Homo sapiens: one gene and its partner. The protein of the gene in region 2 purifies or fractionates together with the protein of the main gene of each other region. This does not show direct contact. Each region holds a gene or a part of one and is shown on either strand. Other genes may lie near its edges.

Region 1 (3,830 bases), on a different chromosome or scaffold from region 2:
TCATTCCCCCAACGGGCCAAGTTATAGTAAGCCCAGGAAGAAGGATCTGTTTACACACCTGGCTTTCTTACAATAATGACTCTCTACAAGCATTACAAGGCAGAGAATTAAGAAAACGCAAGCCTTTCTGCTGCTCTGTTTTGTTTATACTATTACCATGTGGAAGGTGTGGCTCATTTTCATTCGACTCGGAGTCTGAAGATCGCTCTGGACTGAGCCTGCTGAGAGGCCTTTCTGGACTCTGCCATGGTTGGTGCTTTCCCCTCCTCTGTTCACCTGGTCAGTACAGATACCACCAAATTACACACTGCACAAGGTGAGCTGACAGCCAAGGCCCAGACGTTCATACATGGGAATGCCAGAACGCCAATTAAATCAGCACACCTTTTACTATACAGTAGGAAATAACTAGTTAGTTAACTTCCTACCTGGTTTCTGGGCTGCACCTATGTCCTATTAATGTTTATGTTTCTGCTTAGCTCACAGCCTCGGCCACAGTACCAACTCAACAACGTGTTATCTAAACAGCATGTGGGTTGTAGACATGCTTATTTATTATCATCACTCCCGCTAAAACACATAGACCCAAAGGGTACCTATCTCAAGAAGGAGCCTCATTTTACATTTAGTTAAGGCTCAAGATCAAGGGAAAAAAATTCGCTGCTCTAAGAAGCTAAAGCACAGCTGCAACGAGAATGAACGTAAGTTCACTCACTGAGGGCCGCTGGACACTGAAAAAACAGTGATCGGCAAAACTGAGCATGTTAACATCGATCACGCAAATCACATATGAAAGTTAACTGTCACATGCCATGGAGCGAAGAACAGGGTGCTGGAAATGGACAACAAACAGGTGGATGCAACTCAGGCTGGGGGTGGCTACAGCAGGGGTCAGGTGAGAGAAGGCATCTGAGCAGGAGGAGCAAGCCAGGCAATGGGAGTGCTGATCAGCTCATCACAGCACTGGCCTAGGAGCACTTGTGCCATTGCTCCGGCACATTCCTCTCCTCCCTGCTGCCTTCTGCCTTCAGTCAGTGTAAGCCTCATCTCCTCGCCAGGTTCTGGACTTCTCTGGCCTTTGCTGGGTGCTCTGGTCTGTCACCCATCAGCACTACTTAGTAAGCATCACATTAGTTAGTACTAACAAGGAAATACCCCTACTGCTTGGTACTCTCTTCACATGTAAGTAAAACCAGACATGAATGTCTTTAGCCAAGTTCAAGGACAAGACTAACTCTTTTCCTAAGCTAAGACCACATCATCTGGCCCTGATACTTCGGAATTTGCAGGAGCTTCTAACCCCCAACAACACTTCTTTTAGGTTGCTGTAATCATTATTTATTTAAAAAAATCTATCTGTGCAAACCTCTTCATGATCGTCTGATCAAAAGAGGGTATTACGCCTGTGGGAAAAAACCTCCAAGCAATGAATGTGCAAACTTGAATGCAATCTATTTACCAACAGTGCTTGATTATCTAATATTCCAAAGCATAATCACTATCATTAGGCATAAGTCAGACATCCGTAAGTTTATAAGCCAGGGCAGGAGCCATATCTTCATTCCTCAACTAAATTTTCTAATCATGCTCAGAACACAAAACAGGGTGCCCACAGCAAGTGTTCAGTTTCTATTTTCATCCATGTTTTCTTTACTCAGGACGTACACCCTCCTCCTGGGAAACCTGGCTTTCATACTCACTGTGTATGGGGATCTGGTAAACTGTCATGGTTTCATCCTCGTATTCTGGGGCAGAGTGGGGCCGCACAGCTACAAGAAAACCACACAACAGCAAAGTGATTGCATTAGTGAAGATGTGTGGGAAGAGTAACTTCAGGATCACCAACCACGAGCAACTGAATTGCCTCAGAATTATGGTGGGAATCTGACACGAAAACCAGACTTTCTAAGGAGATTACCATTTTTAGGAAATAAATAAAAGTGTATTTTGGTCAGCCATTTATATTTACTACAGCCAGATGAAAAGACATTATAATCTTTGGTGACTATCCGTTAAAAATTGAAAAACAAGAAACTAGTACTCAACTTTCAGAGACCCAAGTTAACAAACAGAATAGTGAAGCCAGGGAACCTATCATCGCAAACCAGAAGAGCTGATGTATATTTTGAAACAAAGTATTAGTGTTTCTATAAAAGAGGAGTATTAACAAGCCACAGATACACACCAGTGCCAGGACAAGAGCCCTACTAGCATCCTCAGTGAGGCCTCTTCCCATCAAGAGGCTGTAAGCCCCCCTGCGCAGCTGGAGCTGCGTTTCAATGTACAAAGTTGGCCACAAAACCTCTAGGGAACCCTTGTCACCCCCGCCCCCAACTCAAAGCAACTCAACGACGAGAAGCACCTCTGGAACTGAGGCAGGAGCCCTGCCGTCTGGATGGAGAATGCCACACAGCATGTACACAGGCAGGCATCAGCTGTTCAATCACTCCTGCCGACCTGGCCCCTATTTTTACAGCATGAGGTGGGAACACAGAAAATGTCACTATTTAGAAATCCCATCTCCAGCCACATGGTAGCTCATTTTGGGAGGCTGAGGCGGGCAGATCACAAGGTCAAGAGATCGAGACTATCCTGGCCAACATGGTGAAACCCCGTCTCTACTAAAAATACAAAAAATTAGCTGAGCGTGATGGCATGCGCCTGTAGTCCTAGCTACTCAGGAGGCTGAGGTGGGAGAATGGCTTGAACCCAGGAGGTGGAGGTTGCAGTGAGCCGAGATCATGCCACTGCACTCCAGCCTGGTAAGAAAGCAAGACTCTATCCAAAAAAAAAAAAAAAAAAAAAAATCTCGTGGTGATGAAGCATTTGATTTTGAGGTTTGATGTTGATGTTTTTAATGGATTCTAATTTGAGAGGTCAGGGCATATATAAGTTAGAAATAGCAGAGGATGAGTCACAGACAAAGACGTACCCAGTTCTATTCCTTTCAATGGACCAGAAAATATTTTGATTGCTTCGAGGTATTTTTCCTAATGAAAAACAAAGAAATGAGCAGTTATGGTTGAACAAATGTAGAACACAGCAACTATTCAAGTATTTAAAAGGTTACCAATAGGTATCAACATAAAACAAAGCTTAGTAAATATTTTGAACATCATTTATTACAAATATTTACTGAGTATCCATTATATCAGATGCCAAGGATATAGCAGGAAAAAGAGATGGAGGCCTTGCTCTAATCAGGCCAGTGGAGGAGACAAAAGGAAACACGATAACAGAAACAGCTTAGTGGCATTATGCTAAGTGCTCTGCAAGGAAAATGAAAAATACAGAAGGCTGGGATCCAACTTGTCTAGAGAAGAAGAGGCAGTTCTGGAGTAAATGACCCTCTAGCTGAGCCCTGAAGGTTCAGTAACAATATAGGCAGCAATTAGAAGAGGCAGAGGGAACCCGCGGAAGGGCGAAAGTCCTGAAGTGGCCAGGGAGTTAGAGGGACATAAGAGTCAGCCCATGCAGCTGCAGTTCAGCGATGGGTACAGATGGAAGTGTGGGTAGCGGCCGGGGCCTACAGGACTTGTAGGCCATATCAAGGTGTTTTGATTGTATTGCAATGGGGAGCCCATGAAGGGCTTTAGGGTGGCAAGTGACACACTACTTTTCTGTCTTGAAGTGACCTCTCTGGCTGCTGTGTGGCAGATGGATTACAGGAAGGCGAGAATGAATATGGGAGGCTATTGTAGTTTACAGGCATAGAAAACAGAAATAAGGAAGGCCTCAATAAGAGACAAATGGATGGATTTCAAACGTTATTTTGGGGAAAGACTTAACAGGTCTTGGTGACTTTCTTCTTAAGGACTGGAAAATGAACT
Region 2 (3,499 bases):
TATCATCTAACTTACAATAAATGCATTTTAAACGTATTCTATTTTGTCTTCCCTTGTTAGAACAAAGTTTGTGAGGGCTTTTATTCTTTTTCTGTTTTATTATCTGCCATATCTCTAACACCTAGAAGACTTCCTTCGCTTCTTGTCTTTGGAAAAGTAGCCTTTAATAGACTGAAGAATATTGAATTCAGCCTAGGAAGTCAGGAAAGACAAACAACAGTATATAATGAAGAGCCAAAGCAAATAAAAAATTAAAATGTATATATTAATTAAAATTGAAATGCAAAGGATGTAAATCTGGTAAAAGAGTATGTCTAAATGTAGTTTTGTAGCAAAAAGTATTCTTATCAGCAGTCCATAAATTAAGGCACAGTATCTTACAGTCCTAGGTTGAGATTTTGTAAGAACAAATTACCAAGAATAATGGATACTTCCAGGAATATTCAACACATAATACTCTGCGGTCATTCCAAGAAACAGTATGTATTATTTGCTTTGCAGGAGAGTAAATACTATGAAATAATAGACGCAAATCCATTTAAGCATAATAGTTATCATATTTCGATTTATTTCCATGTAAATTGGTTGTTACATGCTGAGTTAGTACAAAGAATTATAAAAAAGATAATTAAATGCATTGAAAAATATAAAAAAATAACTGCAGCATATTAGACTACATGATTTTTAACTAAAAATCTTTGGATTGTGAAAGTACCACTTAACTCCCTATTTGAAATCTGGCCACAAACTCATTGCCAAACAGCATATTCTATACTGAATTAGATTATCATCCCACAAAATACAGAATGTGCATTTCTAAGGCATAATGTATGTTCAACAATATACTAATATATTTTGGAAACCACTAAATGTCAAGCATTATCCATACAGGGTATTAACACATTAATGTTTTCATTAAAAAAGAAAGATCTCTTTCTTCATCACATTACACATTTATAGAATAGAGATCTGTCAAATAAATTACTGCAAAGTAGTTCAAGCTAAAACTTATAACACTTGAATCATATAATCGGGAGCAAATAACCTTTAAAATGAAAGACAAATGGTGAAATTTAAGGGCATTTAATTTGCATAAATGTAATGTTAACAGTCTTTTCCTGGTTACATATTTTATGCTTAATTTATATATGTCACTCTATTAGGTCCTTAACACTCTTATAGGTCAGTTTTAATTTTTTCCAATTTTATTTTACCATAATAAGCATTATAGAAGTAGTTTGTCATATATAAAAATAAGGTAATCTCATAAAAATAATTCATTGTGACTCTAGAAACAATCCAGCATCAAGACCACTACACAGTTTTTGTGTTGTCAATGCCTGCTTCAAAATAAACATTTGCATTTTAGAATCTTGTGTGTCTAAACTCATGTTTAGCTCTTAAGCTCTCAGAACTCCATACCAGAGACTTCCTCCAGGTTAACAGTCATTGTAGCCTTGGTGTGTGGAAGTCTTAAAACAAAGGTCTTCATAAGGTACATGGTTTGGTCTTCCTTTACATTGAATAAAACATTAGCATTTGACCCCCAAGTTATTGGACTTAAAGTTTTATCCACTAAACTTCTACTATAAACACTGAAATGCATTAAAATATAACTGCTCAGACAATACTGTGTCCACTTTATCAACAAACTATAAAAACCATCCATCAATTAACTATGATTTTAATGTCAGAACTGATCCATAATCTCTAATAAATTAGAAAGTGCCTGCATTATACAAATTCAATTACAGGAGTTGCATAGCAAAATATCAATTTATACACAGCAAAATATATTTTCATTTTTGACTTTCCTTAACTCATGCTTACCTACCAGTGACCAATGAATTAGAGATGGTGAATATTACCATCCGCCATTGGAATAATTTAATTGGACAAAGCAGAATAAAATTATTTTCTCTAAGGAAACTTTACCTCCAATTATTACTTCTGCTTTTCCTTGGAAGAGTGTTTGATGGGAATGTGAGTTGGCCTCACTCATTTCAATCCAAGTTAGTGATAAAGAGACTGAGGCTACCATAGGGACAAACACTATTCTTTGTAGTTCATTTCAATCAAAATTGAAATGGCTGGATATGTTATAAGAATTCAAAACCTTTCTTAATTCTCTTTCATTTTACTACATTGCCCTACCTACGATTTAATGTTAAAATTAATGGCCATATGAATGTTTACCACACATTTGCTAGAGACCATTATAATCCATCACTTGGCAGGCACTAGAATTTACTTTTATAGATGCCAGAGAAAGCACCTAAATGGCTGGTATTTTAATTTTAGTTTCAACTTGTTTCTCAAACTCACTTTAAAGTACCTAGCTTTTTCTTACTCTGGTAATTTTTAGAGCGGTTAAAATGCTGTTAAAAGCTTAAGCATAATTATGTGTCTATGCCTATCTTTGAAGGTGATAATTTTTTCCTAGGTAAATCAATTTGCTAAATTAAAATGTGAAATTCTATGTACTTGTATGTGATTGAAAATATATGTATAAGCATGAAAACAGTAACATACAGTTCAGCCTAGCCTATGGCGTTTATTTGTCAATTATCCTGTTGGTTTGGTGGGTTTGAAGATAATCACATCAAGCTCTCCTCTAACAAAAGAAAAAAAAATCTATGAAGATCTACCTACCTATCCATCCATATGGATATAGATAAACATATTATATTGACTATCTCTGAAATAGGGAAGTCAAAAATTATTACAGTTCATCTTATACTGGAATAGCACAAAGCTATTCTGCTAGTGGTATTTTCTCATCTAAAAATTATAAAATGTGTAATTTTCATATTCTCTTTCTCCAACAAAGCTTCAGTGGAAAACAGAGCCTCTTATTGGGTAGAAATGTTAAAATTAGAGCTATTGGGTCTGAAGATCCTAAGCATTTCCAATATTCACAGCAAAACAGACCAATGTCAAGAACTTGGTTTTATTTGGATACCCGTTTCTTTCGATTATGAAAACATTCCTGAATACTTCAGAAATGGATGTATGGAAAGATATGGAAACGAATTATTTCCAGTTTTTCATTCGTTTTGTTTGGTTTACTTTTTGTGAATTTCACATCTTACTGTGTAAAGTAATATTTAGCCTTATTGATATTTCAGAGGCCTATACAGAGAGAAGTTGTGTGAAAATGGCACATTTGCTAAGTTGTTTTTATGTATTAGTTACAGATTATCTTAAAATTTTACAAATGGCTTGTAAATGTTCCAAATTACCTATGACAAAAGTATTTCTCAATTTTAAACATCAACTTACAGCACAATAGAAATAAAACAACACAAAATAATATGGTAAAATAAAATAAAACCATGTTTACCCTTCAGTACACTAAAACTAAACACATACTGATTTTTACATAAAATAACTAAGCGAATCTTCTTACTAACAAAAATGAGAAAAAAAAGTTGGCAGTTCTTTCCAACTGCTATGCAGTTACTAAGTCACATCGTACTTATTGTAGCAGAGGTCATCT

What was found.
Region 1: the proteins of SLC26A7 (region 2) and ELAC2 purify together in Homo sapiens (affinity purification with mass spectrometry; one large-scale study listed by BioGRID and IntAct). This does not show direct contact.

The regions. Positions count from the first base shown.
Region 1 is NC_000017.11:13,011,507-13,015,336, forward strand, and holds part of ELAC2 (zinc phosphodiesterase ELAC protein 2), read right to left. Parts: intron 2,991-3,830; coding exon 2,933-2,990; intron 1,770-2,932; coding exon 1,701-1,769; intron 277-1,700; coding exon 157-276; intron 1-156. UniProt on the Homo sapiens protein: Zinc phosphodiesterase, which displays mitochondrial tRNA 3'-processing endonuclease activity. Involved in tRNA maturation, by removing a 3'-trailer from precursor tRNA.
Region 2 is NC_000008.11:91,395,194-91,398,692, reverse strand, and holds the end of SLC26A7 (anion exchange transporter), read right to left. Parts: 3' UTR 538-3,499; downstream 1-537. UniProt on the Homo sapiens protein: Acts as an anion channel mediating the transport of chloride, sulfate and oxalate ions. Mediates the transport of bromide, iodide, nitrate, gluconate, thiocyanate and bicarbonate ions.